4 linked regions of the Homo sapiens genome follow. The protein of the gene in region 1 purifies or fractionates together with the protein of each later gene. This does not show direct contact. Each region holds a gene or a part of one and is shown on either strand. Other genes may lie near its edges.

Region 1 (7,968 bases):
CCAGGCCTAGTCTACATGCTCACAAACCCTCAATATATTACATTCAGTGCCAGGGAGTGCCTGATAATCTTTCTGAAGTCAGTAAATAACTCTACATAAGAGCCAGATCAAATTCCAGAACAGAAACCACATTCACAGCCTCTGGCAACAACAAAGCCTAGTTCTGAGAAAAGATTTAGGCTGGGAAAAAGAAATATGAAGAAGCTAGTGTGGTAGAGTCTTATGGCTCCATGAAATATCATTTATCTTTTTTTTCTATTTTTCCATTGTCCACAAAGAGCACCCAACATAAAAATCATTTAAACCCAAAACTTCTGAGAGTTCAAGGGAACAATGTTAATAATTATTTAAGAATAGGCATAAACCAGAATTCTCCCAGGCAGGCAAACCAGAACAAATGGTCACCCTGCCTTAACAGAAGATCCTAGATATCTGTTTCCTACTGGGGTCACTATGATTCATTTGAGCCAACTAGGGGCTTTGAAATCTTTCTCTAAGTAATAATCCCTACCTGTTTGATTTGCTCCCATAGCATCCTTGTAACTGACGACCCTGAGTGAAACGTGACTTCAACATGATAGGCAGCATTTAAGATCTGAAAGAGACAACGCCAAAGAAAACATGTCCTCAGTAGTGTGGCTATTTTAAAAATGCAATAAATGATACTTATTTCAAGAACACAGTCCAGACTCAGGGTTTCCAAACTTACCCCTCAATATATATGCAGAGTCAACTTAAGCTGATTATTTATTTTGTGACTATCTAGCCCCTTCTACCTCATCTTTATATTCATCAACTTATTTTTTTATTTTTTTTTTTATTTTTTAGACAGAGTTTCACTCTTGTCCCCCAGGCTGAAGTGCAATGGCGTGATCTTGGCTCACCGAAACCTCTGCCTCCCAGGTTCAAGCGATTCTCCTGCCTCAGCCTCCCAAGTAGCTGGGATTACAGGCATGCACCACCACGCCCAGCTAATTTTGTATTTTTAGTAGAGATGGGATTTCTCCATGTTGGTCAGGCTGGTCTCCAACTCCCAACCTCAGGTTATCCGCCCACCTCAGCCTCCCAAAGTGCTGGGATTACAGGCGTGAGCCACTGTGCCTGGCCTATATTCATCAACTTAACTGCAGTTTTACAGCTCACCAACATCTCCCACAGGCAGTGGTCATGTGACAGGAAAACAAAATAAAATTCAAACAAGATTCGCAAGAAGCTGAAAGGGAAATTCTTGCCTAATTTGAAGTGTGGACTTGTGCAGATTTTTCATGTGCTATCTATGACACGATGTCTTAAAAATCATTCTTTGTCTACCTGTTTGAGATAATTACTGGTGATGTGAACTGAGACATCCTGAGACTTCTCCAGGCTCTGCAGACATCGTTCCAGGGTTCCGACGAAGCTTTCCCTCAGGTAATCCACTGAGCTGATCAGCTTATTAGCCACTGCCTGATTAAGTCGGGAGATGATGAGTTCCTGGATCTGTCGGATGCAGCATTTGATCTCTCTGGTGCCTACTGGTTCTCCATTCTCAGGGACAATGACGTCTATGGAGGCAGAGAAATAAGCTGAATAGTTGTGAGGAAGAAGGGGCAGACACACTAAATAAAGTCATCTCCCAAATCAGAACCATGGAACTACCGTGATGATGATGGCTGCAAAAAGACATGATTCGTTGATGATGTCTAACTCTCACAATGATCAGGGGTCACGTAACCCTCAACTACTAAAGGCAGCTAAGATCCTGAGAAGAAGCAATTAAGTCCAGGTGCAGTGATTCACGCCTGTAATTCCAAAACTTTGGGAGGCTGAGGCAGGAGGATTGCTTGAGCCCAGGAGTTCAAGATGAGCTTGGGTAACAGTGAGACCTCATCTCTACAAAAAGTAAAAAGATGAGGCAGGCGGGAGGATGGCTTGAACCTAGGAAGTAGAGGCTACAATGAGCTGTGATTGTGCCACTGCACTCCTGCCTGGGTGATGGGAGTGAGACCCCGTCTCAAAAAAAAAAAATAAATAAGAAGCAATAAGTCTAGAATGAGACTGTTGATTTTGTTAGCTTTTTTTTTTTTTTGAGACGGAGTCTCGCTGTGTCGCCCAGGCTGGAGTGGAGTGATGCAATCTCGGCTCACTGCAAGCTCCGCCTCCCGAGTTCAAGCCATTCTCCTGCCTCAGCCTCCCGAGTAGCTGCGACTACAGGCACCCGCCACCACGCCTGGCTGATTTTTTGTATTTTTAGTAGAGACGGGGTTTCCCCATGTTGGCCAGGATGGTCTCGATCTCCTGACCTCGTGATCTGCCCACCTCGGCCTCCCAAAGTGCTGGGATTACAGGTGTGAGCCACCGTGCCCGGCAATTTTGTTAGCTTTTATGTCACATTTATAGGAGGGGAGGAACAACATTTATGAAGTGCAAACTATTTGAAAGGCACTAAAATAAGGATTTTACACATGTAATCTAATTTCATCTTCACAATAACTTTGTTACATGGGTATTATAGATCAGGAAACAGCCTCAAAGAGAGAACAAAGTAGACATGGGAAGGGAATAGTACAGTTAGGAAGTAATACAGCCAGCTTTTGAACCCAGTGCTCATTATTCCAAATCCTATGATCTTTGCAAAATTTCACACTCCCTAGCATATTAATGAGAAAAACCCAAGAGTCAGGAATTGTATTCTATGTTTTGTTTTGTTTTGCTTTTTTTGAGACTGAGTTTAGCTCTATCGCCTAGGCTGGAGTGCAGTGGCACGATCTCGGCTCACTGCAACCTCCGCCTTCTGGGTTCAAGTGATCTTGTGCCTCAGCCTCCCAAGTACCTAGGATTACAGGCACCCACCACCACGCCAGACTAATTTTTGTATTTAGTAGAGATGGGGTTTCACCATGTTGGCCAGGCTGGTCTTGAACTCCTGACCTCAGGTGATCCGCTCACCTTGGCCTCCCAAAGTGCTGAGATTACAGGCATGAGCCATTGCCGCCGGCCAGGAATTTTATTCTAATCAATTACTAGATAAATAAAAAGTAAAACTCAATTGTCCCCACCATGCCACACTATCTCTTAGGATTAGAACATCTATTAATGTTGTAAATCAGAGGACAGAAGAACTTGAGAGAAGTCAAACTACTTGCAAAAAGATGTGCTCCTGAAAAGGCACTCTCATGTCTACTGGTGGAAACTTAAATGGGTGCCACTTCTTCAGAGGAAATTTGGCAATATCTATTAAAATGTTCAACCAACCAAGAAAAATCTACATACCCTTTGATCTAACTATTTTGCTTCTAGGAATTCTTTTTCTTGAGATATACCCTTACAAGTCCCAAGGTGTATATGTACAATGATGATTAATGCAGTACATTTTGTATTAGCGAAAGAGAAAATAAAAAATAAACAAATAAGCCTGGCCAACATGGTGAAACCCTGTCTCTACTAAATACAGGTATGATGGTGTGATGGTGCACACCTTTAGACCCAGGTGTGATGGTGCACACCTTTAGACCCAGCTACTAGGGAGGCTGAGGTGGGAGGATTCCTTGAACCCAGGAGGCGGAGGTTGTAGTGAGACTAGACCAGGCCTCTGCACTCCAGCCTGGGCGACAGAACAAGATCCTGTCTCAAAAAAAAATAAATAAATAAAAATAAAAAACAAAAACAAACAGCTTAAATGTCCACCAATGAGAGAATAGTTCAATAAATTCAGGCATATCCATTAGAAGAAGACAAATTTGTATGAATATTTATGGAATGCCCTCTAAGATACATATTAAATGAAAAAGACAAGTGCAGAAGAACATATGGAGAAGAACTGGGTGGCTGGGGGATGGTGTCTTTATAACTCTGAGTTAAGTACTATACATATAGGTTTTATCTTAAAAATAAATTTTATAAAGTGTGAATATCATGATACCTAGCACATATGCATTGTCTTTATTTAAAAACAGACAGTAATAGTAATCTGGCTCAACGCTGGGCACGATGGCTCATACCTGTAATCCTAGCACTTTGTGGGGGCTGAAGCAGGAGGATCGCTACAAGCCTGGGCAACACAGCAAGACCTCGTCTTTACAAAAAAAAAAAAAAATCTGGCTCCATAGAATATGTGCTAGCTTGCTTCTAAATCTTCTTATTGTTTCAAGGATACTCAGAAAGCACTTAGAACAAGGTAAGAACAATCGGATACTTTACTGTCTGCCCAACCTAGCTGTCCTGACCTCCATTCTGTGTAATATGATGCCGGCAGTGATGCTCTGGTGTCTTTAATCAAATATTGAGAAGACTTCCTAAGATTTCCACTGCAAGTAACACTTCTCAACAACTCCTCTCGCAGTGGGGAATTAACCAAAGAGGTATCTCTGTTCATCTTTAGAATGACTATAAGAAATCAGGCAACCTATGTTTGCTAAAGTCAACCATACTTCCTTTGTATTTATAAGTGTAACTTAAACTAGATACCATCATTCACACACTCATTGATTCTCCAAAGACGTACTGTATACAAGAGTCTGTGTTATTTGCTGCAAGGAATATGATGATGAATAAGACCCAGATCCTACCCTCTTTCAACTCTAGGATTTTAGGAAGTAGTCCGCAGTACATAAATAACTATAATAAAAGATAGAAAGTGAAATATGCCAGAAATAAGTTACAGATGGAATGCTATGGGATTTCAAATGACTGCAATTGTTATTAGCTAAGAAAATTAAAGCAGGGCTAGGTGTGATGGCTCATGCCTATAATCCCAGCACTTTTTAGGAGGCCGAGGTGGGAGGATTGCTTGAGACCAGGAGTTCAAGACCAGCTTGGCCAACATGGTGAAACCCCTGTCTCTAAAAAAAAATACAAAAAGTTAGCTGGTGTGGTGGCATGTGCCTGTAGTCCCAGGTGTGCAGGGGGCTGAGGCAGGAGGATTGCTTGAGCCCAGGAGATTGGGGCTGCAGTGAGCCATGACTGCACTACTGCACTCCAGTCTGGATGGCAGAGCAAGAACCTGTCCCAAAAATAAAAAAAGAAGGAGAAAATTAAAGAAGACTTCATGAAAAATGGCATTTGGGAGACAGGCCCTGATGGGTAGGTAGGATTTGGAAGTTCACAGACAAATCAAAGACATTCCAGGTTTAAGGCAGGGTGTTAGCAAAGAAAAAGTAAAGGGAGCGTATGGAGGACAGAAAGAAGTTAAGACCAACTGACATAGAAAATACAGGAAAGTGCATAGTGGGGAAATAAGACTGGAAAAGTTGGTAAGGGCTAGGCTTTGGGAGGTCTTTAATACTAGGTGTAGGAGTTAAACTTAGTCTGTAGAAGTAGGGAGCCAGTAAAGGTGAACTGAAGAAAGAAGTCAGGGAGATCAGTTAGATAACAATAGTTCAGTTAGACTTAAGACAGAATAGAAAAGCATAGATAGGTATCGAATACGTAAGAAGATTAATCGAGGCCAGGTGTGGTGGCTCACGCCACCCAGCACTTCGGGAGGCCGAGGCGGGTAGATTACGAGGTCAAGAACATCCTGGCCAACATGATGAAACCCCGTCTCTACTAAAATACAAAAAAAAATTTAGCCGGGAACGGTGGCACACGCCTGTAATCCCAGTTACTCGGGAGGCTGAGGCAGGGGAATTGCTTGAACCCAGGAGGCGGAGGTTGCAGTGAGTCAAGATCACGCCACTGCACTCCAGCCTGGGCGACAGAGCGAGACTTAATCTCAAAAAAAAGAAAGATTAATCAGTACTTGGCAACTGATTAGCCAAGGGAAGACAATTCAAGACCATGCTGAGGTTTTGAAGGTGGGTACCAGGAAGAAGGTGGCATCAGTAACTGGAAACAGATTAAGAAGCAGTAAAGGATGGAAATTAAGAATATGGGCTCAGGAATCAGACTGTCTGGATTCAAATCCTGCCTCTAATATTTACTAGCTGTGTGACCCTGGGCAAATTACTTACTCTTTCTAAGCCTTAGTCCCTCATCTAGAAAAAGGAAATAAGCAGAATCTACCTAGGGAGGTTATTTTTTAAAAATACTGATGCTGGGTCCCATGTCAGAAATCGTGAGTAAGTCTGCAGTCATCTTTAGTGGTCTTGAGCATGTGTATTTTCAGAAAGCCTCCCAAGGGATTAGGATACTCACAACTGAGACTCTAAAGGGTAACTTGCAAACCATGTCATTTTAATCTTGCATGGAGGTTTATACAGAAGTCAGTATACAAAATCAGCAGCATCTCAGACACCCAAAGACCTGACCAATCACTTTCACCCAATTTTGTTAGTAGCCATTTGTGAAGAATAGGACTGTCAAAAGGCTAAAAACACAACTTTGGGAAATCCTCCTGATGTGGGCTTCAGAAGCAGCCTGAAAGGAAATTAGACCATGAGACAAAAAGAACCAATAAAGAGGCATGAGCCATACTGCAGGAGCAAAGGTTAAAGCACAATTTACTAACATTCTCCAAGCAGCTCTTCTCCAGCTCCATTAGGGGTTGAGGGGGTACAGGCAGAAAGTGGAGATTACAGAGCTATTAGGATGAATTTACCAAAAGTTGAGCTAATGTTCTTGGGAAGGAATGAGGGTGGAATCTTCCACAATGATCTTTGAGAGCAAGAGAGGCCACCTTGGCTAAATAGTGGGCTCCTGCTGGTAACAGTGGGGTGGATGAAGTTACCCTGAGATTCCTTTAACCTTAGGAATTAACGTTCTTAATTTCCGGCTAGAAAATGGTTAGAGACTCCTCCCGTGCCAGCACCCCAACAAGCTCTCTGGGACCTACCTTTAAACTCCATGTTAGTAGCATCATCCAGAAGTTCCTCCTTCATGGTATTAAGTGTCTCAACAATCATATCCTTCATTTCCTCCTGCTTTCGGTTGGCAATATTCATCAATGATTCATACAACTCATTCTCCTTTTTTCGAGTATATTCCAGACGTTTGGGAGTGATCTGCAGGTCCCGCTGCATGTCAAATGCCTGGTTAATAAAGATGTCAAGGCAGTGGCAGTGCACCAGGTTCAGGGCCTTGGCTGCATCCACCAGGCGAGTCTGTAACACCTGGTGAGAAAATGTGCTCAAGTGTCTCAGCTTTTCACTCTGTTCCACCAACATGCTCTGAGCTTTAGTATCCTGGCCAGGAGCCCCACAGTTCCAGTGACTGCTGCTCAGATAGCCCAGGTCAATTAGCTGGCGATAAAGCGGTGATCTTTCGCTCTCCATTCTCCTGGTTGAGGAGTCTATTATCTCCGAGCCCAGTTTCGGCACTTTGAAAAAGAATACAGGAAAGGAGAAATACTTTCGGATTTCCTGAAGCTCTTGCTCATCCCTCTCAGAGAGTTCATCTTTGTGGAGTGCATAGGTTATCACAGGCAAGAAATCATTCACCAAGTCACCCAGAACATCCACTGTGGGCCGGAGGCCTTGGCATGGTGCTACCACAACGTCCACTTCCTGGAAGGGGAAGGGGGTCATATATCAGCGCCTCAGGGTCAGAACCAATCCCTGTCTCCCCAAAGTCCCACACTGAGACCAAAATCCTGATCTACAATGGAACAATTGGACTTCGGTACCCCAGCCATTGATCCACCTCCTTCCTCGGTTACCAACACTCCCTGGTGCAGCCTATGAAGGCAGGCACTCATCTAGAGAGAGTGAAAAAACAAAGAAGTAGAAAGGATGGCAACCCCTTTAGCCATCAGATTAAAAAAAAATTTTGGTCTCTGCCTTCCTTTATTGCTTAGACATTCCCACTGATTCCCTCTGATGAAGAATTAAGACAAATAATGGAAGAAAAAGGAATTGTAATGGAAATTATCAGACTGGGAGTGAGTCGACCTGGGGCACTCCTCCCCCTCTTGCTCTCCTCTGACACCTCCATCCCTGCCATTCTGACCTGGCTAACTCCTAAGCATCCTTTAAGTTTCAATGTATATGTTATGACATATCCTTATAGAGCCTTTCCTATCACACAGCCCCAACCAAGCACACTTTACTTCCC
Region 2 (7,968 bases), on another chromosome or scaffold:
GATGGTCAATCATATGGCTTTCTCTGTGTTAAAATGGTAAATTATATTCACTGACTTTTCGAATATTAAATCAACCTTATTCCTGGGATAAACCCCACTGGTCATGGTATATTATCCTTTTTACATAGTGTTGGATTACGTTTGCTAAAATTTTGTGTAAAATTTTTCCATCACTTGTCATGAGGAATATTGGCATACAGTATTTTCTTATAACATCTTTGTCTTGTTTTGGAATCAAAGTAATGCTGAACTCATAGAATGAGTTGAGATAACATCCCATCGCTTCCATTTTCGGGAAGAGTGGGTAGAATTGGTATTATTTCTTCCCTTAAATGTCTGGTAGAATTCACAGTGGTGCCATCTGGAGTCTGAAGGTTTCTTTGTGGGGAGGTAATCTGTTGTCCAATATTGGCACTTTGTATCTTCGCTCTTTTCCTGATGACGTTTGCTAGAGGCTTATCAGTTGTATTGATCTTGAAGAATCAGCTTGTGATTCCTCTCATTTTTCTGTTTTCTGTTTCTTTGATTTTTACCCTGATCTTTATTCTTTTCTCTTGCTTATTTTGGATTTAATTTTTTTTCTAGTTTCTTATGATGGAAATACAAAGATTATTCATTTGAAATCTTTCTATTTTTCCAGTACAGGCATTTAGTGCTATAAATTTCTCTATAAGTACTGCTTTGCTAAGGCCCTGCTGACAAGGATTTTTTTCTGTCAGTCACACAAAGCCTTTTCAGTCTCATCGTCTTTTTGTCTGCTAAAATAAGAATTGTAATGTAAATGTCTGAAGGAATAAAGGAGAAAATTTAAACTCACAACTCCATTTCATAGGCATTTTGCACTGGTATTAAGAGTGCAAGGGAGGATATAACATTTTTTATTTTTTGAGATGGAGTCTCGCTCTGTCACCCAGGCTGGAGTGCAGTGGCGCAATCTCGGCTTACTGCAAGCTCTGCCTCCCAGGTTCATGCCATTGTCCTGCCTCAGCCTCCCAAGTAGCTGGGACTACAGGTGCCCACCACCACGCCCAGCTAATTTGTTGTGTTTTTTAGTTGAGACGGGGTTTCACCGTGTTAGCAAGGATGGTCTCGATCTCCTGACCTCGTGATCCTCCCGCCTCGGCCTCCCAAAGTGCTAGGATTACAGGCGTGAGCCACCGTGCCCAGCCCTGAAGGATGTAACATTTTTGGTTCACAGAAGTATCTTTGACAAAGATCTTATTGATGATTTATTGCACTTATTTATTTGCTTTGTCTCACTCTAAAGACTCGTCCAGTTAATCCTGTCTAGCTAATATTAACAGAAAGGAAATGTTAATAATGGGGGGCAAACTAATTTTATCTGAATTGTTAAGCATTCTTTGCCTCAACAACATTTTTGTAGTTGTGAATAAAGACTAAGGTGGTATGCTAGTTCGCCCTTACTATTTAAATTTGATTTTGAATATAAAGCATGTTACAATAAATAATATCTTTAATTATTCATATTTCAACCATTATGCAGAAACCTGCCTTAATCCTATTTTGAATAATCTTTTGTCTAGTATAAGCCAGTACCAGGAATCCACAAAAATAATAGTGAACCTTTATTAAATATAATAGCCTTCATTAAACATTTGTTAAACAATGTGTCAGGCACTATGCTAAACACTGCATAGGTTATCTCTTCCAGTGAAACACTGAAACCCTGTGAAGTGTAGACATTTCTATTCCCATTTTACGGATAAGGAAACCAAAATTTAGAAAGTACCTGGTCTCTGGTCCCACAACTAAGTGGTAGAGTTGGAGTGCTAACCTGGTCTCCAGTGATTTTAGGCACATTATACATCCTTATATAGACATTATATATATACATTATATTACATATATACATTATACATTCCTTCTATATCCTTCTGATTTACAGGAGGCCCTGTTGTAATGCATGTATCACATATTAACTTAAGTAAACAATCATTTAGAAATTATTGCTTTGAATTATTGAAGTAGTCTTAACTTAGATTGTTTTATCATCTAATATTTCAGGTAGGAAAATGCTTTCTGATGAAACTCTTGATCCTCCAAAAAAATATATATTTGAAATACACATGTGGGCTGGAATTTGGAAACACTCTATAATTTAGTTCCCTTAATGCTTCACTGACACCATTGGTTGCTATGGTAGACAGTTGATATCACCCTTCTCTCAGAATGCTTAAAAATAAGTAAATTCATATTTGAGTATACCTATTACATACATAGATAATACTTATAGATAATAGCTAACCGTATTTCTGTTAATATTAGCTAGTGTGATATTTAAGTGCCTTACATGGATCATGTAGTTTAACCCCCACAACTCCATGAGCTGCAGGTACTGTCATCTCTGCACATAGAAAGTAAGTAACTTGCCCAAGATCTAATGGTGATGGAGCTCCTGTTCTTAACTCCCACATCATACTGTAGGAAAATATAAAGAAGAAAACATATAATTTCTACTCCCAAGGAATTTGCATTCTGTTGGGAAAGAAGGCATACACAAAGTTGTAAGGGTACCATATATTTAAATACTAACTGATTCCTGTGAGTTTTACGAGAAAGAGAGCTTGCCATTATCATGGAAAGTTTCATAGACAAAGTAAATCTTAAATTTGATTGAGGCTTGTAGGACCTATAGTATTTAAATTAATGGGAAGGAAGGAGGGAGCAGGCATAAGTGACAAAGGGGAAGGGGAGTTTGGAGGAGTTTGGAGTATGTGTGTTTGAAAGAATGGTTTATAGTGGCTGTAAAATGATAGGGCTCTGAACATCTTGATTCAGGGTATGGCTTGATGAGTTGACCAAACTATGCTAAGTGAATAATACAATTGTTGAGAAAATAAACTTTGTCTGAGCCAGGGTCTCACTCCTGTCACCCAGGCTGGAGTGTAGTGGCAGGGTCATGGCTCACTGCAGCCTCAACTTCCTGGGCTCAGGGGATCCTCCCACCTCACCTCCCAAGTAGCTGGACCACAGGAGCATGCCATCACGCCTGGCTAATTTTATATTTTTAGTAGAGATGGGGTTTTGCCATGTTTCCCAGGCTGGTCTTGAACTCCTAGGCTCAAGTGATGTACCAGTCTTGGCCTCCCAAAGTGCTGGGATTACAGGTGTGAGCCACCACACCCGGCTGAGAGAATATAGGATGTTTTGCTCCTCAGTAAAATCTGAACTCTCCTAAGAGGGAAGGGGCAAATAGCGAATTAGAAACAGCATGTTGGTACAGAAAGAGAATGGGTTTAAATCTCTACTCTGTTACTAACTGAACCACAGTAAAAAGTTATTTAACCTCTTCAGCTTTAGAGTTTTCATGTATTAGATGGAGGTTATTCTCTTCTTGGGGTAGTTTGAAGATTAGAAATAATGGGTGTATCACAGTGCCAGATGTATTGCAGCTGGTCCATAGCGAAGGTAGTCATCATTTTTAGTCTCTGTTAATCTTCAGTGAATGAAAATGACTTTTTTGGACTTAAGTTCATTTTTCTGGCACTATACCTCCATTCATCACCAGGATTGTCATGTTCTTCTGAAAGCCCTGAGTTCCATTTTTTGTAGCACTTGTATTTTGAAATTATATGTTTAATTATGTGATTATTAATATCTGCCCCCCAACCCCAGACGGTAAGCTTCATACAGTCAGGAGTCATGTCTGATTTTGCTGACCACTGTCTTCCTACTGTCTAGCACAGTGCCTGCTACACAATTGGGCTCTACTGAATGTTAAATGAAATAAATTCTTAATACCTAATACTGAAATTACATTGTGATATTGATGGCTGCCTACATCAAAGTGGGAATACTTTCTTTGAAGAATTAAAATACATGTAATATGAACTGTGTAAAATCTCAGTGCTTGAACTCACTAGTCTTCTGTGGTCACATATTGACACTATGCTGATTGAACTCCTTAGAAATGGAGGACAGTAATGTATTTCGTTATATTTATCATTATTGTATATTGTTTTCAGCTTAACTAATTGTGGCTTGAATTTCCATCATACTGTATGTTAACTCTTGTGCAGAATTTCATTTCAAGTTTTTGGTTATTTTATTTTGCAAGAAATGTTAATTGTTTCATGAAACTCTCACGGCTTTAAGAAAGTAAAAGTATCAGGTGCCTCATTTCACTTCTTCAGTCTTCCATTCATATAAATATTGTTTTCATTTGGTTTTCTTATCAGGGAGAAGATGTCAACCGGACACTAGAAGGTGGAAGGAAACCTCTTCATTATGCAGCAGATTGTGGGCAGCTTGAAATCCTGGAATTTCTGCTGCTGAAAGGAGCAGATATTAATGTACGTAGAGGACGTGATCATTCTTGAAAAAATTTTCTGTTAATATGCTATGGGTAATTGTTTTCTATAGATTATAAAATAGCTATTTGTAGAAACTTCATTCTAAATAAGAATACAGTCTGAAATTATGCCAAATTGCCTATAACTTAGATATACAGTGGTGGGATTTTTAAAAATAAGCCAAAAAAGCTGACTTTTTTAAGCTGACAAAAATTGAAGGTTAGTATGTTTCCCCTGTGGCTGTTGCTTTTCAAGTTCTAAAGCTTGGGGAGTTAGCACTATCTGTGGGTAACAAATGGCTATGATGTAATACAGCATAGGACTCTGCAGTCATAGGCTAAATCTAAAATGGATTATTGGACAAAGGTCAATGGGCAAGTGGTCAGATAAGCGCAGTCATCTCCCAACTTTAGCCTTTTGTAGCTTCTGTATTTCAGGGGATGCCATGCTACCCGGCCCTTTTACCTCCTCTTTGGCTGTGTTTTACCCCTGTTTTCCCTTACTGGACCACACTGGCATTTCTACAGTTGTGGGGAATCAAGGCTTAGAGAGGCTAAATAATAGTACCATAGTAAGTGGCAGAGCCAAGATTTGAGCTGAGGTCAAAGCCCTGCTCCCTATGCTCTACTACTATGACTCCTAAGGAAAGACATTGCTCGTGGGCTTGGGTCTCTGGTAGCTTTAAGAGACTAGACACTTGACTCTGTGGATTGATTGATTGATTGATTTTCTAGAAAGGCAAATAGGTAAATCTAGAAAGAGTTTTCTAGTTAAAACTAGAAAGTAGGAAGAAATGAAAAACAGATAAAGTTATCTCTGTTTATTATTTCATAGGCTCCAGATAAACATCATATTACTCCTCTTCTGTCTGCTGTCTATGAGGGTCATGTTTCCTGTGTGAAATTGCTTCTGTCAAAGGTGAGGTCAATTGCTAATAGTATTGCTTTTTCTATTACTGTGTTTAAGCCAAGTATTTGATTGTTAATTTATTTGAATTTTGTGTGGCAGCAGGGACAGAAAACTGGAAGCAATATACAAAATTGAAGTGTAGTGTTACTCAAAATAGCTGGCCCATAAACTGTTACCAGTTTGTGGTAGGTAAGGAGCTTGGGTGAATATAAATCAGCAGTCTTCTTTGTCAAGAAAATATTTTACACACACACACACAGAAACCAGCTTGAAATAACCATTGTACTTGATGATATAGAAGAATGTCATTTTGGACAGTAACACTTTGTGGACTGGCACCAGGTTCATACACCATGCTTTGAGTAGCACTGGTTTGAAATGTATATGTTTCATTTTCTGGAATACATACCGAGCAAAATGGTTAGAGGTAGTTTGCTGTTAAGTAAGGACTCTCCAAGTTATCTGGTTTCTTGATATGCTTGAGATAGTGGTAAATTTGGAGTTTTCCTACCTTTTTTGTCTTTGCTATTATAAGCCCTTAGATGGAGTTCAAAATCCAGACTCAGAAATTAACCATTTAGTTGCCGCCATTCTAGCTGTATTAGATGGATCCTACAGATGTTGGAAAGCAAGAAATCTTCAGAAAATATTACCAGTTACAGTATTATCACTAGTATTTAATCCCAGCCTTGTCATTTTATGACCATACTCTGGAAAGTGTTGTTTATAATATTTCATTTGGGATCTTAAGCCCTACTAAAAGAAGCAAGAGAAAAACAGAAATGAGTAGATGTATATAAAGCATTTTGCCACAGTGCCTGATACATAGTAAGCACTCAATAAGTAGTAGCTTTTATTATAACTAAGGCTGAAGAGGATTTTAATGCTTTGTAGTGTCAGCTTCAGTAAGATACGAAGAAAATTGGGAAAGAAGATAGCACATTTATCTCTTAACACTTTATTGACAACTTTGTAAAGATATGGTTCTAAAAGCAGTTAATTTGGGTCCTCTAAATAGAGCTAGGGTTTTTTCTATCCATAGCTTCATGTTAACCACAATTACTGGATTTCTTTAAATATGTTTGTTGTTGTTTGGGTTTGGGTTATATATCAAGAGCAATTTTTATACCTTACTGATAAGAATGATGCATTTGTCCAAAAGCCAAAATAAATGGAAATATTACTCTTTGCCGCTAGTGGATCCAGCATCTGTGATAGGGTGTGCTCGCAAAGATTTCCAGTCACTGTCTTTCTCTTTACTGTTCATCCCTCCCCAAGATCTGCGAAAGGATTACAAAGTACCTTTGAATACTGCTAGATAATTTCATCCCTGGGAAATATTTTTGCTTACTGTATCAAAAACAGATTTGCTGTTTATGAAAGATTTATATAATTTCAATATTGTATTAGTTAGGACTCTGTCTTGCAAGTAACTGAACCCAGCTCAGACAGGCTTAAACAGTAAAGAGATCTTATTAATTTATATAACTGTACAGTTGAGGCACAGCTTGACCCTGGATTTAAGACACATGACCATGATCTGATTTTTTTATTTTTATTTTTGGCCTGTCCCAGGTCTCTTCCTCAGCATTGGCTTTATTTCCATGGCTTCAGCCTATCTGCTAGCTCTCAAAAGAAATGGAGGACTCCCTCCTTACCCTTCGTTCCCGCCTTTTCCCTGACCTTTTTTTTACCCAGCCAAGGGTTTTGTTCTCTGAAAATAAAAACCTCCATGGGATCATTTTTTGCTTAGGTCCCTTGTCATTTACTAAATGAGCTGCCCTAAATGTACTCTTTCCTTCTAACCATATCTCAAACTGTAGATCAGAACAATTTTTCTTTGTGTTAGACCTCTCTGTCCTCCTAGGAAAAACAAAACAGGATATATTTTTTATTCTATAGAGAACCCAAACCATTGTTCTGTACTCCTTATTCCCAAAACATGAGGCTTCAGGTCATTGAGACCTTGTGGTTGTAAGTTTCCGTTGTTAAAGAGTTGAAAACATTAAATGAGTTCCTGAAAAGTTGGCTTGATTTGCATGTACATTAGGCCCTAAGATGTCATCCCAGAAGGTTCTCTGTGTGTGTACTGTGTTGCTAAATTATTGATTGTGAGTTGTCTTACTTTTAACTAGTTTGTTTTTTCTTTTGCTTATGCCCATTTTGTTCTTTTGTGTCTGAACCTTGACTTTTTTTAGCCAAATAAGTGACATTTGGAGATAGCTATGTTGGTAGCAGACCGTTTGTAACCATGTAGAGCTGTTGTTTTATATGAAAGAGATTTTCTTCTTTTTGAAATCAGCATAGTACATTTTAGTTCTGCTTTTTCAAAATTAATTACTTTGATTTTATTATTGCATAAGCTTCTTTAATGGATACCCTGTAGTTTTGTTAGGCAGATTTTTTTTGAAAATTGATTATACTCTTTCAAAAATTCTTAGTTGCTAAAATAGAGTTGTTCCAGTGCATCTTTTAAAAGTTATAATCAGTGTTTATATTAAGTCTAATTTGTTCTGCCTTTTATCAAAAGTAGAATTCTTATGGATTATTATGAATTCACTTGAAAAGACTTGGTTTAAGAACTTTCCAGATTCATTGACATTTCCAATACATTATCCAGTTGATTTATCCTTAGCATACGAAAAAAGGCAAAATAATAAACAGGGATTTAGAAACTCAGTATGATCACAACTAATAGGGGAGAAATCAGAAAAACAAACATGATTGCTAGAATATTTGAAATCAA
Region 3 (7,968 bases), on another chromosome or scaffold:
GTAATCTTGGTGGCCCTCCCAAGCCTAAAAGGCACATTCTACACTTTCTCTACTGAGGGCAGCTTTTATTGGTTCTCTCCAGTGGTTTGGCAAAAACCATAAACTTACTAACTTGGAATAATTGGGCCATTTATAGGTATATAGTCATTTGCAAAAATATGTGGGAAAATTTAGATTTGTACAGCAGCTAAATTGAGGGTAGAGTGATAATCGTTTGCTTTACAAAAGAAGGCATATTCATGTTCTGCATGAGTTTTCATGACAAAAAAGGGCAAGGTAATCTCCTTCTCCCCACCCTCAATTTTGAAAAAAGGAAACACTTCTAGTTTCTTTTATTGAGAGCGGTCTCCCCCATTGATGGGGACCCCTAATTGATGGGGTCCTCTCTAGGAGATTTTATCCCATTTGTACAGCTTCCTGGTAAAAGCAGATCTGTGTAGCTGAGTCCGGATCCCTAAAGCATTACTGTAGGTTGAGTATATTGGGGGCAAACTGAAAATATATACAGTCAGCTTACAGTCATTTCTGCTGACTTTTCTAAGTGCTCCCTTACATCATTTAGCATTTGGGATGTTTGCATTAGAATTGAAATAGAGAATTGTCTAGTCCATTCTCCTTTGCTTTTGGAGACTTTAGGGGAGATTGCACTTGCACAACTGGTATTTTGGCGGGGGTGGGGGGTGTATTTTGAAATCATTGTTCTATAACCAGTGTGTCATTGTTACTCAGCCTGTCTAAAGAATCACTTCTGGCTGAGATTTATATCCATTTTATTTTCTCTCTGGCAAAAATTCAAGTGGCTCTTCTTCCAGCTTTTTTTTCTCCCCTTCTCTAGCTTAATTTGTCAGTTCCATTCTTAAACATTCTGCATAGATGCCTGGTTTCCTGAGCCAACTCTTGTCTCTTACTAAATGGGGTGATGTTATGTTTTTAAGCTGCTATGTAGGTGACAACGACATTTTACTCTTTGAACGTTCAGACTATCTAGTCAACACAAGCTTTATAGAAGCAGCTTTCTCTGACCCAGCATTCGGAGATGATTTGGATTTTCAGGAATAAACGTTTTTAAAGGGGATTGAGGTTTCAAAGTGAGATCTTCCAGCCTGCTTATAAGGTAAATGCCCGCCTGTCCACTAGATGCTTCCCAGGAGCTCTGCCACCCTCCAGTTTTTCCTTCTTTCCTTAAAGACTTCAGATTTTTTTTTTTTTTTTTAATAGAGGCAGGGTCCCACTATGTTGCCCAGGCTGGTCTGTAACTACTGGGCTCAAGTGATCTTCCTCCCTCAGCCTCCCAAAATGCTGGGATTACAGGCGTGAGCCACAGCGCTGGCCGACTTCAGATTTTCTTAAGGCATTGTTTGGAAAGCAAGATTCAAGGAAACTCCTCCTTAGGTTGCAGTGAGCTGAGATTGCACCACTGCACCAGCCTGGGCCACAGAGCAAGACTCCATCTCAAAAAAAAAAAAAAAAAGGAAACTCCTCCTTGTTACCGGGGTTTTTTTGGTGCTTGAGTAAGCGTTGCTTGTTGCTGCTTAAAATACATCATCAGCAGCTCTTTCCATAGAAACTACAAGGCTTTCTTGTTACAGTTGGGATTGCCACTGCTTGGAATGCTGTCAGCCTGTGTGTTTATTTGTCTGTAAAGTTATAGCCTGGTAGGGCCAGAATGGCAGCCAGTCTTGAAAGATTATATATATATTGCTGCTGTATTTGTCTCTCTCCATGTCCTAGAGATCCTGTGAAAAAGGAGCTCTGGCTTCAGATCACTGCAGGGTTTTGCCATTCTTCCCTCTCTTACCCGGGGAGGCTGAAATGACAGCGTGAGCTGGCCTTCTGTGCTCACGCCTGCTCCTCCTTCCTAAGACAGTCTTTGAAACTTGCAAGGACAAGAATACCCATGGCAATTGAAGGCCTCCTTTTTTTTCATAGTCAAACCTAAGCCTTGAGAAAGTGCTTAATTTTATAAACAAAGAATTAGACACTTGGTTTACTTCCTCTGCTATAAAACTATGCTTGGAGCCAGGCGTGGTGGCTCACGCCTGTAATACCAGCACTTTGGGAGGCTGAGGTGGGTGGATCACCTGAGCTCAGGAGTTCAAGACCGGCCTGGCCAACATGGTGAAATCCTGTCTCTACTAAAAATACAAAAAAATGGCCAGGTGTGGTAGCTCACGCCTGTAATCCTAGCACTTTGGGAGGCCCAGGTGGGTGGATCACGAGGTCAGGAGATCGAGACCATCCTGGCTAACACAGTGAAACCCCATCTCTACTAAAAAACTACAAAAAAATTAGCTGGGCGTGGTGGCAGGCGCCTGTAGTCCCAGCTACTCGGGAGGCTGAGGCAGGAGAATGACGTGAACCTGGGAGGTGGAGCTTGCAGTGAGCAGAGCTTGCGCCACTGCACTCCAGCCTGGGCGACAGAGCGAGACTCCGTCTCAAAAAAAAAAAAAAAATTAGCTGGGGGTGGTGGCGGGCACCTGTAATCCCAGCTACTCTGGAGGCTGAGACAGGAGAATCGCTTGAACCCAGGAGGCGGAGGTTGCAGTGAGCTGAGATCGTGCCATTGTACTCCAGCCTGGGCAACAAGAGTGAAACTCAATCCCAAGAAAAAAAGCTATGCTTAGTTTATGGTTTGATGGATCACTGTAAAAGCAGAATATAAATGTTTGAAGATTCCAAGCATTAAGGTACTTTTGGAATATGCTGTAGGTATGGCTCCCCCATTTTTTTTTTGAGACGGAGTCTTGCTCTGTCGCCCAGGCTGGAGTGTAGTGGTACAATCTCGGCTCACTGCAGTCTCTGCCTCCCGTGTTCAAGCGATTCTCCTGTCTCAGCCTCCTGAGTAGGCGGGATTACAGGTGCACACCACCACACCCATCTAATTTTTGTATTTTTAGTAGAGACGGGGTTTCACCATGTTGGCCAGGTTGGTCTCAAACTCCTGACCTCAGGTGATCCGCCTGCCTCGGCCTCACAAAGTACTGGGATTATAGGCGTGAGCCACTGGGCCCAGCCAGTGCCTCTTTTTATTTAAGGAACTGATGTTTGGGGACAAATTGTGTGTTCTCGCGCGTGTTTGCACATGTGCTGCAGCATTGTTAGACTCAGCTGTTCATGTTCATGGGTCTGAAGAGTCTCCAGATTATTTGTTGGACTTTTAAGATGCATTGTTTGCCTTTAATTTGTTTTAACTACCTTGTCTAGCACATTTGTTTTGTCTTACACTCAAACAAATTTGTACCTCTGGAATCTCTAGCAACCAGTAGTGTGGGGTAGGGATCAGAAATGTGCTGGAGAGGTGATAGGGATTGACAGGGTAGAAGTTACGAGATTGTAGTAGACTACCAGATTTTACTAGATTTTCTTTTGATCAGTTTGTGGATGGTTCCACCAGAGGGCAGTGAAGGAACAGACATGACGTAGAATTCAGACTCTTCGTTTTTCTCAAAAGCAGGACAGGGTTGCCTTTAGCTAAAGTTAAAGGTGGACAGCGTTTATGGTTAGATTTACTTGAGTCCTGGCTCCCTATGTGAGCACAGATAATGTTCTGTAAGAGTTTTTAGAGTCTCAGATTGTGGTCTGTGAAGGTGTGGTATGTATTAATTTTTAAACTGGAGGCTCTAGCACAACAGCTGATAAATCTTAATTTTCGCCTTGAATGGAAATTCTGTGTGTGTGTGTGTGTTTGTGTGTGTGTGTGTGTGTGTGTGTGTGTGTGTGTGTGTGTGTTTGTTTTTTTTTTTTTTAAAGAGACAGAGTCTCACTTCTTTGCCCAGGCTGGAGTACAGTAGCATGATCTCGGCACACTGCAACATCTGCCTGCTGTGTTCAAGTGATTCTGCTGCCTCAGCCTTCTGAGTAGCTGGGATTACAGGCACGCACCACCATGCCCGGCTAATTTTTGTAATTTTAGTAGAGACGGGGTTTCACCATGTTGGCCAGGCTGGTCTCGAACTCCCTACCTCAGTGATGCACCCAGTTAGAAGTGTGTGTGTGTGTATGTGTATGTATTTTTTTTTGTTTGGTTTTGTTTTGTTTTGAGACGGAGTCTTGCTCTGTCACCCAGGCTAGAGTGCAGTGGCGCGATCTCAGCTCCCTGCAGCCTTCTCCTGGGTTCAAGCAATTCTCTGCCTCAGCCTCCCAAGTAGCTGGGATTACAGGAGCCCGCCACCACGCCTGGCTAATTTTTTTTTTTTTTTTGTATTTTTAGTAGAAACAGGGTTTTAACCATCTTGGCCAGGCTGGTCTTGACCTCCTGACCTCGTGATCCACCTGCCTCGGCCTCCCAAAGTGCTGGGATTACAGGCATGAGCCACCTCCCCTGGCCGGAAATGTATATATTTTTAAATCTCTGACCATCATTTGCCATCACATAGTCCCCCAGCCACACTCTATAATGTTAAAAGTGCTTTATTTTCTTCCTAGTGCTTATCACTGTCTGAAATCACCTTGATTTCAGTTACTTGTTTATAGTCTGTCTCCCCCACCCACTTCAGGCTATATTTAGCCTAGCATAGTGAATGTCTGGCACATGGTAGGTATGCAGTAAGTATTAGAAGGAAGGAAGGAACGTTTTCTTGGAATACCAGTAACTGTTCAGGTATGTCGTGGATTTTTAAAATTTGTTTCACTTTTCATTTCTGAGAAAACAGAATCTGTCCAAACAAGTCTTTCCTGGCCTCCTTTCTTCAGCTTAGGTCCTGACTGTTGGCAAGAATGAAGATGAATCCTATTCTGAGTCTCTTTCCTCTCTTCCACCCTAGCTTGCCAGCAAAGCACGGACAGAGAAGGAGGAGAAGCTGAGCCAGGCCTATGCAATCAGTGCTGGTGTCTCTCTAGAGGGCCAGCAGCTCTTCCAGACCATTCACAAGACGTGAGTTGGGATCGGAGAGGTCCTTTGTCCTGGGGTAATGCTACCTGGTTGTGCTGTCTGGTGGCAGGCTTTTGGGTGGTTGTCTTCCTAAAAGTCTACTGGGGAAGCTGGGTAGGGTATTGGCAATATGCCAGCATCCAGAGGTGCAGGTGCTGTAGCCCCCTTTCCACACAGAAGAATAGTGTAATCACGGACAAGTTGTCTTCTCTGGTCTTTAGTTGCTTGTCTGTAAAACTTAGTTTTGGATTAGATTATCCCTAAGGATCCCTTCTAGACCTAGTAGTCCATAACTTAGAACTAGTGATTTCTTCTCTTTGATTTTGTTGTTTTGTGCCTTTCTTTAAAAGCTGATGCAGTTTTTATTAAGGGAAAGTTATATCTATATCACTTTTCCCATTGTAGATTGGGATGAACACAGGGAGTTAGAGCAGGCCACCTTCTTACCACCTCTTAAAAGACATTTTGGGGCCGGGCGCGGTGGCTCACGCCTGTAATCCCAGCACTTTGGGAGGCCGAGGCAGGTGGATCATGAGGTCAGGAGATCGAGACCATCCTGGCTAACAAGGTGAAACCCCGTCTCTACTAAAAATACAAAAAATTAGCCGGGCGCGGTGGCGGGCGCCTGTAGTCCCAGCTACTCGGGAGGCTGAGGCAGGAGAATGGCGTGAACCCGGGAGGCGGAGCTTGCAGTGAGCCGAGATTGCGCCACTGCAGTCCGCAGTCCGGCCTGGGCGACAGAGCGAGACTCCGTCTCAAAAAAAAAAAAAAAAAAAAAAAAAAAGACATTTTGTTGGTCGGGCACGGTGGCTCACGCCTGTAATCCCAGCACTTTGGGAGGCCGAGGTGGGCGGTTCACCTGAGGTCGGGAGTTCCAGACCAGCCTGACCAACATGTTGAAACCCCCATCTCTACTAAAAATACAAAATTAGCCAGGCGTGGTGGTGCATACCTGTAATCCCAGCCACTTAGGAGGCTGAGGCAGGAGATTCGCTTGAACCCTGGAGGTGGAGGTTGTGGTGAGCCAAGATTGTGCATTGCATTCCAGCCTGGGCAACAAGAGCAAAACTCCGTCTCAAAAAAAAACATTTTGTCACAGCAGAAGTCATTTGACTCTCCACTAGCTTCCCTAGCTGCTGAAAAACTGGAACATTTGACACCCCTCTCCACCCCGCCTCCCCCCACCCCACACTGCCATCTGTTACTCTGTTTAACCACCCTGGATCTGGTGCACAGATGGCAGCTGGCATCAGAGCTGTTTGAGGCTGTGGTGTGAGTATCTGAACATTTACAGGTATGTGAAGGAACTCCCAGTCGCATCAGCTGCCCTGGGGCTTCCCAAGTGTGAACTGGAATGGGTTTTCCCAGTCTGGCAAGTGCCCAACTGTCTGATAATTGAGAAGAGCCAGTCTGAAGAGCAGCTCCCATTATGGGTGATAAGGGTCAGAGTACAGATCATAGGAAGATGGGGAGTTTGTTCTCTCTCTCTTTTTTTTGAGTCGGAGTCTCACTCTGTCACCAGGCTGGAGTCCAATGGTGCAATCTTGGCTCACTGCAATCTCTGCCTCCCAGGTTCAAGCGATTCTCCTGCTTCACCCTCCTGAGTAACTGGGACTACAGGCGCGCAGTCCCACGCCCAGCTAATTTTTGTATTTTTAGTAGAGACAGTTTCATCATGTTGACCAGGATGGTCTCGATCTCCTGACCTCATGATCCGCCCACTTCGGCCTCCAAAGTGCTGGGATTACAGGCGTGAGCCACTGTGCCTGGCCTTTCTTTTTTTTTTTTTTTTTTGAGACAGGGTCTCACTTTTATTGCCTAGGTTGGGAGTGCAGTGGTGCGATTTTAGCTTACTATAGCCTCAATCTCCCCGGCTCTGGTGATTCTCCCACCTCAGCCCCCGGAGTAACTGGGACTACAGACGCATGCCACCACTACCGGCTAATTTTTTGTATGTATTTTTAGTAGAGACGAGTTTTTGCCCTGTTGCCCAGTCTGGTCTCGAACTCCTGGACTCAAGCAATCTACCCACCTCGGCCTCCCAAAGCGCGGGGATTACAGGTGTGAGCCACCGCGCCCGACCTGTTCTCCTGTCTTTCTAAAGGTGGTATTTCTCCCTAGGCCAATGGTTGACAAACTATGCCAGCAGGCCACATCTGCTCATCTGTTTTACCTATTGTCCATGCTACTTTTGTACAACTATGGCAGAACTCAGTGCTAGTTGTAACAGATGATATGGACTGCAAAGCCTAAAATGTTTGTTACAAGACCCTTAAGAGAAAAAGTTTGCCAGCCTCTGCCCTAGGCTGCTATCTTAATTTGGATTCTTGAGGCCACTATCACATTTTTATGGCTCTCCAGATCTCTGATGCTTCAGAGTAACAATTTCTGGGCTCTCCCAAGAATAAATGTGCATGAGTTTCATTGCTTTTCTAGCCAGTGGCACCCAAGGAATGTTTCTTGGCTACTATATGGGCTGCTGGCATCTAGTTGTTGGCTGAGTGGTGAGCTGGGAACTTGGGATCAGCCTTCTGGAGTTATTTATTCATCAGACAGGAGATGTGGGATGCCCCCAAGAGGTTACATTTCGCCTGCTGTCTTCTCCTTCCAGCATTAAAGACTGTAAATGGCAAGAAAAAAACATCGTAGTCATGGAAGAAGTTGTTATTACACCCCCATATCAAGTGGAAAACTGTAAAGGCAAAGAGGGGAGTGCACTGAGCCATGTACGCAAAATAGTAAGTAAAGGAGCCTTCAGACTTTAGGGGAGAGAGGATGGTTCCTCAGGCCTTCAGTCTTTAGCACCAGACCAGGACATTGTGCTACAGTCTCTGCCTCCTCTAGCAGCAGAGGCCCTGTCTGGCCTCCCTGCCTTCCCTGTACTGTGGGGTTCTGCAGTCCTGTGGGAATGGAACCACTGGGTGGTGTGGAAAGAAGTGAGTGGGTGACCCTATGTCCTTTGCTGGCTTTTTGGAATTAGGAAGACTGTTCCATGGTATTGGGCCTGAGCAGTTTCTCTCATCCCATATTGAGTTTTTCTTTTTTAGAGACAGAGTCTCGCTCTGTCGCCCACGCTGGAGTGCAGTGGCGCGATCTCA
Region 4 (8,431 bases), on another chromosome or scaffold:
GATCATACCACTGCACTCCAGCCGGGCCACTGAGCGAGACTGTCTCAAAACAAACAAACGAACAAACAAAAAGAAGAGAAACTCATCAGACGAAGACACAGGAAAAAAATGAGCGAAGGAAATCAGCAGAGGTTTCATTGAAGGACAAAGAGAAATGGTCAATACATGGATGAAAACATGTTTAACTTCAGTAATAATCAAGGAAGCACACACCAACACAACATGCACATACTGTTTTTATTTATCAAAGGCACACATATTTTTGAAATGAGTACTCCTAATTAATATGTACAGAGCACTTACCCAGTGCCCAGCACAGGGGTGGCACCCTGTGTGTGAGACAGCATGAAACAGGTAGACACGCGCCCTGCTGAAAGTAAGGGACCGCCTCTCTGGAGGATCCATCGGGCAATAAGGAGGTTTCCACACCTTAACTGTGTCTGCCTTGACCTCTGGGGCCTGGGAGCAGAGCCCCCTCCAGCTGGTGGGGAAGGAAGCGTGGTGTGTTTGAGGACAGAATGGAGAGAAGTTGAGTAGAGCAAGTGTAGACTCTTCCTATCCAAAGTGTGGTCAATGGACTGGGAGTATCAGCATCACCAGGGAGCTTGTTGGAAATGCAGAGGCTCAGGCCCCACTCTGACCTTACTGATTGGGAGCATAAACTGTAACCAGATTCCAGGGAGGATTCATACACACATTCCCGTTTGATAAGTGGGGGGTAGTAGGAGGTGAGGTGAAAAGTGGGGAGGGGATGGCTACCGCACTGGAGAAGGCTGGCTTTGTGTTGAGGCCTTTCTCATGAGGGCAGTGGGGAGCCATGGAAGGCTTTATGCAAGAGAGGGTACGGGCAGATTGAGATTACAGAAGGATCCCACTGGTTGCCTTGTGTGAGGACCCAGGGAGAAGGGGGAGGCTGTCCCTGTTTGAGTAGGAGATGAGAGCTACTGGTGGCTATGAGTGGAAAGAAGTGAGCAGAGGTGAGCAGAAATCCCAAGGACTGGTGATGATAGGATGATGGTGGGAACCAGGATGGGCTTTGGGCAGACCCTGACCCCTCTCTCTGCCTGTCGGCCCACCAGATAATAATCCCTGTGTTCCTGGGCGAGTCAGTGCCACCCGAGATGTTGGCGGCCACTTTGGCTGAGCTGGACGGATGCCTGCAGCTGCTCGAGGACAAGTTCCTGCGGGACCAGGCCTTCCTTACTGGGCCCCGTATCTCTGTGGCTGGCTTGGTGGCAATCACGGAGCTGAGGCATGAGAGTGCCATGGGGTGCGGTGGCCCGCTGGGCAGTGGTGTATCCGGGAAGGGAGCTGACATCCCAGCTCATGTTGTCTTTTCTGGCTGTGGGACCCTGTGTGAGTCACTTCTCCTTCTGAGCCTCAGTGTCCTCATCTATAAAATGGGGCTTTACAAACCCCTCACCGCAGCTATATTAAGAGGCTTCCAAGTGTCCCCAGGGAGGGGGACATCCTAGCCCATCACACACATGGTGGAGGAGGGAAAATCCAATCAGAGAACCCCTAAAGCAGGTCATGCTGCCTTACACTTGGCTATGCCCAGCCCCTCCGCTGACTCTGTCTTCCCCTAGCCCATCAGTGCTGGCTGCTGAGTCTTTGAAAGCAGACCCACGGTGGCAGCATGGTGCCCAACACGTGGAGGCTGCAGTGCGGGAGGACTTCTTCCAGGAGGCCCTCCCAGCTGTCCTGAAGGCCAAGGACCTGCCTCCAGTAGAACCTGCTGTTAAAGAGAATCTGAAGACCTTAATGCAGCTTTTCTTGCTGTGAGTGCGTGTCCCACACTTGCTGAGCCACTGAGGGGATGCTGTGTTGGTAGAATAAAGACATGGAGCTGTCCGTCTCCTTGGTTGAAGAGAAGACATATCTGCAAAGGCTCTGGTCCACAGTTCCTCCAGATATCATGCCTGCATTCCTTTTGTCTCCTACCCCATTCCATTCTAGCTTCCATGTGACCTCTGAAAAGAGCTTGGGCAAACGCTTACTTGACCCTGACCTTCTGTGTGGAACTTTGTATGGTTCCTCACTGCCCAGAAGCTAAAGTACAAGTCATTGAACTTTGCATTCAAGGCCTTGCTCCCACTCCTCCAGGTGGCCCCTTCTGCCTGCACACTCCTAACCCCTCTCTGGGCTCCCACCTTGGCCTCTTGGCCTCCGCTCATGCTGTTCCCTCCTCATCTTCGCCTGGTGCCCTTCCTGGTCTTTTGGCATTTGGCACCCTGTCTCTTCTCCAGGGAGACTTCCCTGACCTCCCCAGCCCCAGTCCAGGTCAGGCGACCTCTCTGGGCTCCTCAGCCCCAGTGTTTCCTTGCGGGGGATACCCCCGGACTGAGCATGTATCATCGATGAGGGGTGACCTGGTGGAAAGATGTCTGAATCAGGATCAGCCTTGGTCTCCTCGGTCTCTCTCCTCACTGTGGGGCGATGTTGTGTTCCACAAGTGGGGTGCAGGGCTGGTTCATGAACCTCCTTGCAGGAAGGGAAGTCCCTGGTTATTTCCTGGCCCTCTCCCATGCCTCCTCATAACCTTGACCACAGTCTTCTCTACACCCCACTCCCGGACCACTGGCTTGTCCATGCCCCACACCTGGTCCCAGACTTGCCACCTGTCCCTGCCCTCTCCCCTTAGGACTGTCATATTTACCTGTCGTGTGTCTCAGACCTTCTGATATCTGAGTCATCTAATAAACAAACTGCTAATAGGACAAGATCATGACAGACAGAGACTCTGTCGGCCTTTCAGTGGAGGCTCCTTTAAGTATGCACACTTATAGAGAATTTTATACACGTAGTTGAAATTGTACATATAAACTTGCAAATTTTTTCTTTCTTTTTTGTGGGGGAGGGGGGAGCCTGGGTCTCACTCTGTCATCTAGGGTGGAGTGCAGTGGCACAGTCATAGCTCCCTGCAGCCTAGATCTCCTGCGCTCAAGCAATCCTCCTGCCTCAGCCGCCCAGGTAGCTAGGACTACAGGCACACACCACAGCACCCAGATTTCTTCTTTTTTTTTTTTTTTTTGTAGAAAATAAAGAAGAGAATCTTGCTATGTTGCCTAGCCTGATCTTTAACTCCTGGGCTCAAGCAATCCTCCCTTCTTAGCCTCCCAAAGTGCTGAGATTACAGGTGTGAGCCACATTGCTCGACCACAACTTCAGTCATATTTGTAATGTACAATTCAAGTGATTTTGCCACACTGACCACACTCATGTTTAAGCCACGCCAACAGAGTTCCATGTTTTCTGATGTTTTTTCGAGATGGAGTCTCGCTCTGTCACCCAGGCTGGAGTGCAATGGCGCGATCTCGGCTCACTGCAACCTCCACCTCCCCGGTTCAAGCGATTCTCCTGCCTCAGCCTCCCGAGCAGCTGGGATTACAACGTCTGCCACCACGCCCGGCTAATTTTTGTATCTTTAGTAGAGACGGGGTTTCGTCATGTTGGCCAGGCTGGTCTCAAACTCCTGACCTCAGGTGATCCGCCCGCCTGGACCTCGCAAAGTGCTGGGATTACAGGCGTGAGCTACCGTGCCCGGCCTTTCCATGTTTTAAAGAACATATTTTGCCACCCCCTGGTGGACAGTGGCTCACCACCGGCACAAGAGGCTACACAGGCAGATGTCAATGGGGACCAGGCAGGGACAGGTATTGTCGTGAGCCTAGCCCTACCCGCGCCCCCGCGAGTAACCACATCTCCTGACTGCCCAAGCGCAGATTTCCATACTGAACATGAAATTGCCTGACTTCGAAATGGTGGCAAATCATTCAAAAAAACTTTAAGCTCCCGTTGTATTGGTTATTAGGGTCGAGCCTGGGGAAGACCCCTATAGGTGTGTGTGTGTCCTTGTGTGTCGGGGGTGTGGTGTTCAGACCTCTAATAGGGCTAGGAACCGGGCGACCACAGCGCGGAAGCTTGAGAGGGAAACCCACCTGGCGCCAGGCAGGAGGGTCGGGGGAGACAGGGTGGGTCCACTACCGGGTTAAAGACCTGTAGTGGGTGGGGCTACACGTAGGGCGGAGACGATGGGACTTCCGGAAATCAGCCGGCACACGTGACTTTTGTTTGCAGAAGCGGGAGGTACCCTAGGCAGCCAATCGGGGAGCGCCGAGTCTCTGTCCAGCCAATGAGAAGCCAGGTTGCTGTGGCGCCTCGCCCCTCCTCCCTGGTCCGCGAGCCTTGGGTACCCCCAGCTTTTCTTCCGCCAGAGCTGTTTCCGTTCCTCTGCCCGCCATGCCGTTCCTGGAGCTGGACACGAATTTGCCCGCCAACCGAGTGCCCGCGGGGCTGGAGAAACGACTCTGCGCCGCCGCTGCCTCCATCCTGGGCAAACCTGCGGACGTAAGCGTGGGCCGGGCAGCACGGGGCGAGGGGAGGTTGGTGGGCCAGGGGTCCGGCCCTGTCCCTGCTCCGCCTCCCCGACAGTGACCCCGAATCTTTTCCCCAGGGACCACTCCCCACTCCTTTCCTCACGCCAAGCTCTGACTTTCCGTGCTCCACGATCCCGCGGCTCCCCCTCCGCACGTCTTTCCCTTGTCGCCCTCCCCAGTCATGACCCGGGCGTGACCTTCAGGGACCGCGGCCCGTATCGGGATCCCTGCCCCGCGAACACTGCGCGTTTCGGCTTTCGCGCGCTCGGGTCCCGTCCCCAGAGGTAGCCCGGCCGGCTCCAACTTCGGGCAAAACTTTTCATGTCCCCCTCAGCGCGTGAACGTGACGGTACGGCCGGGCCTGGCCATGGCGCTGAGCGGGTCCACCGAGCCCTGCGCGCAGCTGTCCATCTCCTCCATCGGCGTAGTGGGCACCGCCGAGGACAACCGCAGCCACAGCGCCCACTTCTTTGAGTTTCTCACCAAGGAGCTAGCCCTGGGCCAGGACCGGTGCGTAGGGGTAGTAGGGGATCCATGTGGGACTGCCGCAGACTGGAGCCACTGATCCTGCCTCAGGGGGAAAAACCCATTTCTTGCCCTGCCCAGTAAGGACACATCAGGGTCTGGAGCTTTGGGGCCCCCTGACCCCTTAGGTTCCTGCTGTTAGGACCATCTTCAAAGTGCGAGCAGGATTGAATGAATTTCTGGCTCTGCTCCTCAGTGTGTAAGTCTGTGAACCGGGAAGGCTCTCTTTTAACACCCCCGGGGCAGTGCAAGGGTCATGTGGGATTGTCTGTGTGCTGTACCTGCCTTGGCACCTGACAGGGTAGGTACACGTGGCTGAAGTGTGATTTTCTAGAACTTTTCCAGGCTGGTCAGAAGGAATTCTGGGTATGTTCTGAAGTTACGTATTTTGGACCTGTGTCCCAGCCAGGTTCCAGGTGAAGTTCACGGGAGACTCACAGAGTAGTGAAAGACCATTGGCCTGGATGTCTAGACATCTGCTTTCTGGGTCCTGCATAGCTGGGGGACCCCAGACAAACTTGGAAATGAACCATCTCCAGTTGGCAACCTCCTCTTCTGTGAATACAGGGGAAAAGACCTCCCTCCCCCACAAGAAGCGTCTGCAACCCAAACCTGGCGTTCTGTGACCGAGTTAAAGTTTCCTCTTGGGTAAAAGATATTCTTGAGCCACATCCATGTCTAGGAGGAAGTAAGGGCATGAGAAGCTTGAAAGGACACTGTCCAGGCACGGTGGCTCATGCCTGTAATCCCAGCACTTTGGGAGACCAAGGCGGGAGGTTCATTTGACCCAGGAGTTGTAGACCAGTCTGGGTAACATAGTGAGATGCCATCCCCCAAAACAGTTTTAAAAATTAACCGGACATGGTGGTGTGCACATGTAGTCTCACTTAGTTGGCAGGCTGAAGTGGGAGGATGGTTTCAGCCCAGGAGGTTGAGGCTGCAGTGAGCTATGATTGCGCATTGCACTCCATCCTGTGTGACAGTGAGACCTTGGCTCACAAAAAAAGACCTTCTGAAATGGAGCCTTTGTTAGTCCATGAAGGTCGATGAGGAATGGCTGATCCTGCTGGGTCCTCCCTCAAGCTACAGAGGAATAATACAGTCAGCCCCCTGTATCACTGGGTTACGCATCTGTTGATTCAAACAACCATGGATTGAAATATTAGAGGAAAAAAAATTGATAATTGCATCTATACTGAAAATACGTATAGACTTTATTCCTTGTCATTATTCCCTAAACAATACAACTATTTACATAGTACGTACATTATATTAGGTATTATAAGTAACCCAGAGATTATTTAAAGTATATGAGAGGATGTGTGTAGGTTACATGCAAATATTACACCATTTTATGTAAGGGACTTGAGCAAATGTAGATTCTGGTTTCCTCTGGGGATTCTAGAACAAATCTCCCACGGATACTCAGGGAAAACTGTTACTCTAACAACAAGTGTTATACACTTACCATGTGCTAGGTCCTCTACAGGTACTTTACACTCATGATCCCATTTGATCCTTACAATCCCTATCCACTCTCCCTTTGCTCAGACAAGACATGCTATCCCCATGAGGTAGATAATCTCCATTATGCCAATTTTATGATGAGAAGACAGGCTGTTCATACTCCCGCCCGCCCCAACCAGGCTGTCCCAAGTTCTGGTTTTCCTCACTGGAAACTTGCTGTTACCTCTGAGAGGGGCATGTTCACTTATGGCCCAGACATTAGTGGCGGGGTTGGTGGGGTGGGGGGTCACCCTGTGCTCAGCCTTTGAGAAAACAGGTGGCTGAGGTACTGTGCCCTTAGGGAGCCTGCAATTAGGAGGCAGGGTACCCCTCAGTACACAAACTGATGGAGATGATAGAGTGTACGGCACACACACCGAGGCTACTGTATTGTGTGTCTGTCCTAGCTGGGTCATGATGTGCGGCTACCTCCCACACCTGAGTGTCCCACTGCCCTGCTGGGGGTTGGGGAAAATCATTATTGGGATGAGCAGGTTTGCAAAATGCCTGGTGGACTGAGGCAGGCTGTCCTGAGTACCCACAGTGGGAGTACCTGGCAGGGGTCTTGCAAGATGTGGTATTAGCCAAGGAGCTGATGATATCTTTTTCTCTGTCTCCTGAAGGATACTTATCCGCTTTTTCCCCTTGGAGTCCTGGCAGATTGGCAAGATAGGGACGGTCATGACTTTTTTATGATTGGGCACGGAGGGATCCAGGGCATCTGTGAACTGGCTGCTTCTTCCAGAGAGATCTCTTGGCAGAGTGAGGGCCTGGAGATAACCAGCTTTGGATTATCCCGCATGCAACATTCCTGTGATCACATAATCCTCTTCTTCATCCTCATATGAAATAAATGAAGAGAGCTTCCTCATTCAAACATGACTTCTTACCTTCTATTATCTCTCCTGGGCATCTGGGGCCACCATGGGCAGCAGGGCTGGTGGATAAGACCGTAGGGAACCTGGAGGGGGATGATTTAGACTGCTCAGATCTGGGGCTGGGAGACTCAGCCTGGAGGCTCTGCTCTCCACACCCATCTGCAGGCCTGTGGGAAGGTGTGAGCAGCTGGTCCAGCTGGGGCCTTCCTGCAGACTGCTGACCTGAGGCTCCTGTCCTCAGCCCCAAAATGGGACCAGACCTCTGTACTCCTCCTGAAGTCTACTCCCTCCATGACTGGCTGGGCAGCCTGCCACGCCACTCTCCCCTTTTCCCCACTGTAGAGTGGAGGCAGGGGTTGCCTGTGTCCCTTTGGGGGTTGGTCGCTGGTTTTCCAGAAGCAGGGTCCCCAGTCTGCCCCTCCTCCTCCCCAGGGTTGCAAGCTTCGACTCCCTCCCTTTGGCAAGACTCAAACCGTCCTCCCAGCTGCCCCATCACCCCTTCCTGGCAGTAGCACCACTTTTCATAACCTTTCCAGCCCAGGGGTCCCCAGGCTGGGAGGACAGCTGGGGGGATGAATGGCAGGTAAGGCTTCCTGTGTCTTCTCTCCTGTTGCAACTGTGCCACCTGCACACTTACACACTCATGGACACACCATGCACATACACACATCCACCCGCATCTAGTCACGATTCATCACATTCACACACATATACAATCATACCATTTACACACAGTTAACTCATGTACACACACATATACACCCAGTCACATAATTCACTCACATCCAACAAAGTCACACAACTCAAATTCACACATATAGACCAAATCCCCACACACGTACACACACACACACAATCACAGCATTCACTGACATTCATAGTCATCACACAGTTCACTCACACACACACATACTCCCCGTCACACACAGGCACACAATTCACACCAACAAAATCACAATTCACTTATCCACCCACATACTCAAATTCACACTGCTCACATTTACACACAATTCACTAAAATTCACGTATACACCCATGTACACAGTTCACTCACATCACACACATATACACCCACACATAAACACACAATTCACTCACACACAGTTCACTGACATTCGCACACATACACACGCACCACACAGG

What was found.
Region 2: the proteins of DSTYK (region 1) and MTPN purify together in Homo sapiens (affinity purification with mass spectrometry; one large-scale study listed by BioGRID and IntAct). This does not show direct contact.
Region 3: the proteins of DSTYK (region 1) and LSM12 purify together in Homo sapiens (affinity purification with mass spectrometry; one large-scale study listed by BioGRID and IntAct). This does not show direct contact.
Region 4: the proteins of DSTYK (region 1) and DDT purify together in Homo sapiens (affinity purification with mass spectrometry; one large-scale study listed by BioGRID and IntAct). This does not show direct contact.

What each region holds. Positions count from the first base shown.
Region 1 is NC_000001.11:205,162,412-205,170,379, forward strand, and holds part of DSTYK (dual serine/threonine and tyrosine protein kinase), read right to left. Parts: intron 7,422-7,968; coding exon 6,752-7,421; intron 1,545-6,751; coding exon 1,312-1,544; intron 596-1,311; coding exon 512-595; intron 1-511. UniProt on the Homo sapiens protein: Acts as a positive regulator of ERK phosphorylation downstream of fibroblast growth factor-receptor activation. Involved in the regulation of both caspase-dependent apoptosis and caspase-independent cell death.
Region 2 is NC_000007.14:135,947,862-135,955,829, reverse strand, and holds part of MTPN (myotrophin), read left to right. Parts: intron 1-4,199; coding exon 4,200-4,313; intron 4,314-5,147; coding exon 5,148-5,231; intron 5,232-7,968. UniProt on the Homo sapiens protein: Promotes dimerization of NF-kappa-B subunits and regulates NF-kappa-B transcription factor activity. Plays a role in the regulation of the growth of actin filaments.
Region 3 is NC_000017.11:44,037,052-44,045,019, reverse strand, and holds part of LSM12 (protein LSM12), read left to right. Parts: intron 1-4,763; coding exon 4,764-4,873; intron 4,874-6,835; coding exon of another isoform or gene 6,836-6,931; intron 6,932-7,481; coding exon 7,482-7,608; intron 7,609-7,917; coding exon of another isoform or gene 7,918-7,968. UniProt on the Homo sapiens protein: Nicotinic acid adenine dinucleotide phosphate (NAADP) binding protein. Confers NAADP sensitivity to the two pore channel complex (TPCs) by acting as TPC accessory protein necessary for NAADP-evoked Ca(2+) release.
Region 4 is NC_000022.11:23,970,226-23,978,656, reverse strand, and holds DDT (D-dopachrome decarboxylase), read left to right. Parts: upstream 1-4,215; 5' UTR 4,216-4,242; coding exon 4,243-4,350; intron 4,351-4,713; coding exon 4,714-4,889; intron 4,890-5,313; coding exon of another isoform or gene 5,314-5,530; exon of another isoform or gene 5,531-5,560; intron 5,561-6,100; exon of another isoform or gene 6,101-7,033; coding exon 7,034-7,106; 3' UTR 7,107-7,250; downstream 7,251-8,431. UniProt on the Homo sapiens protein: Tautomerization of D-dopachrome with decarboxylation to give 5,6-dihydroxyindole (DHI).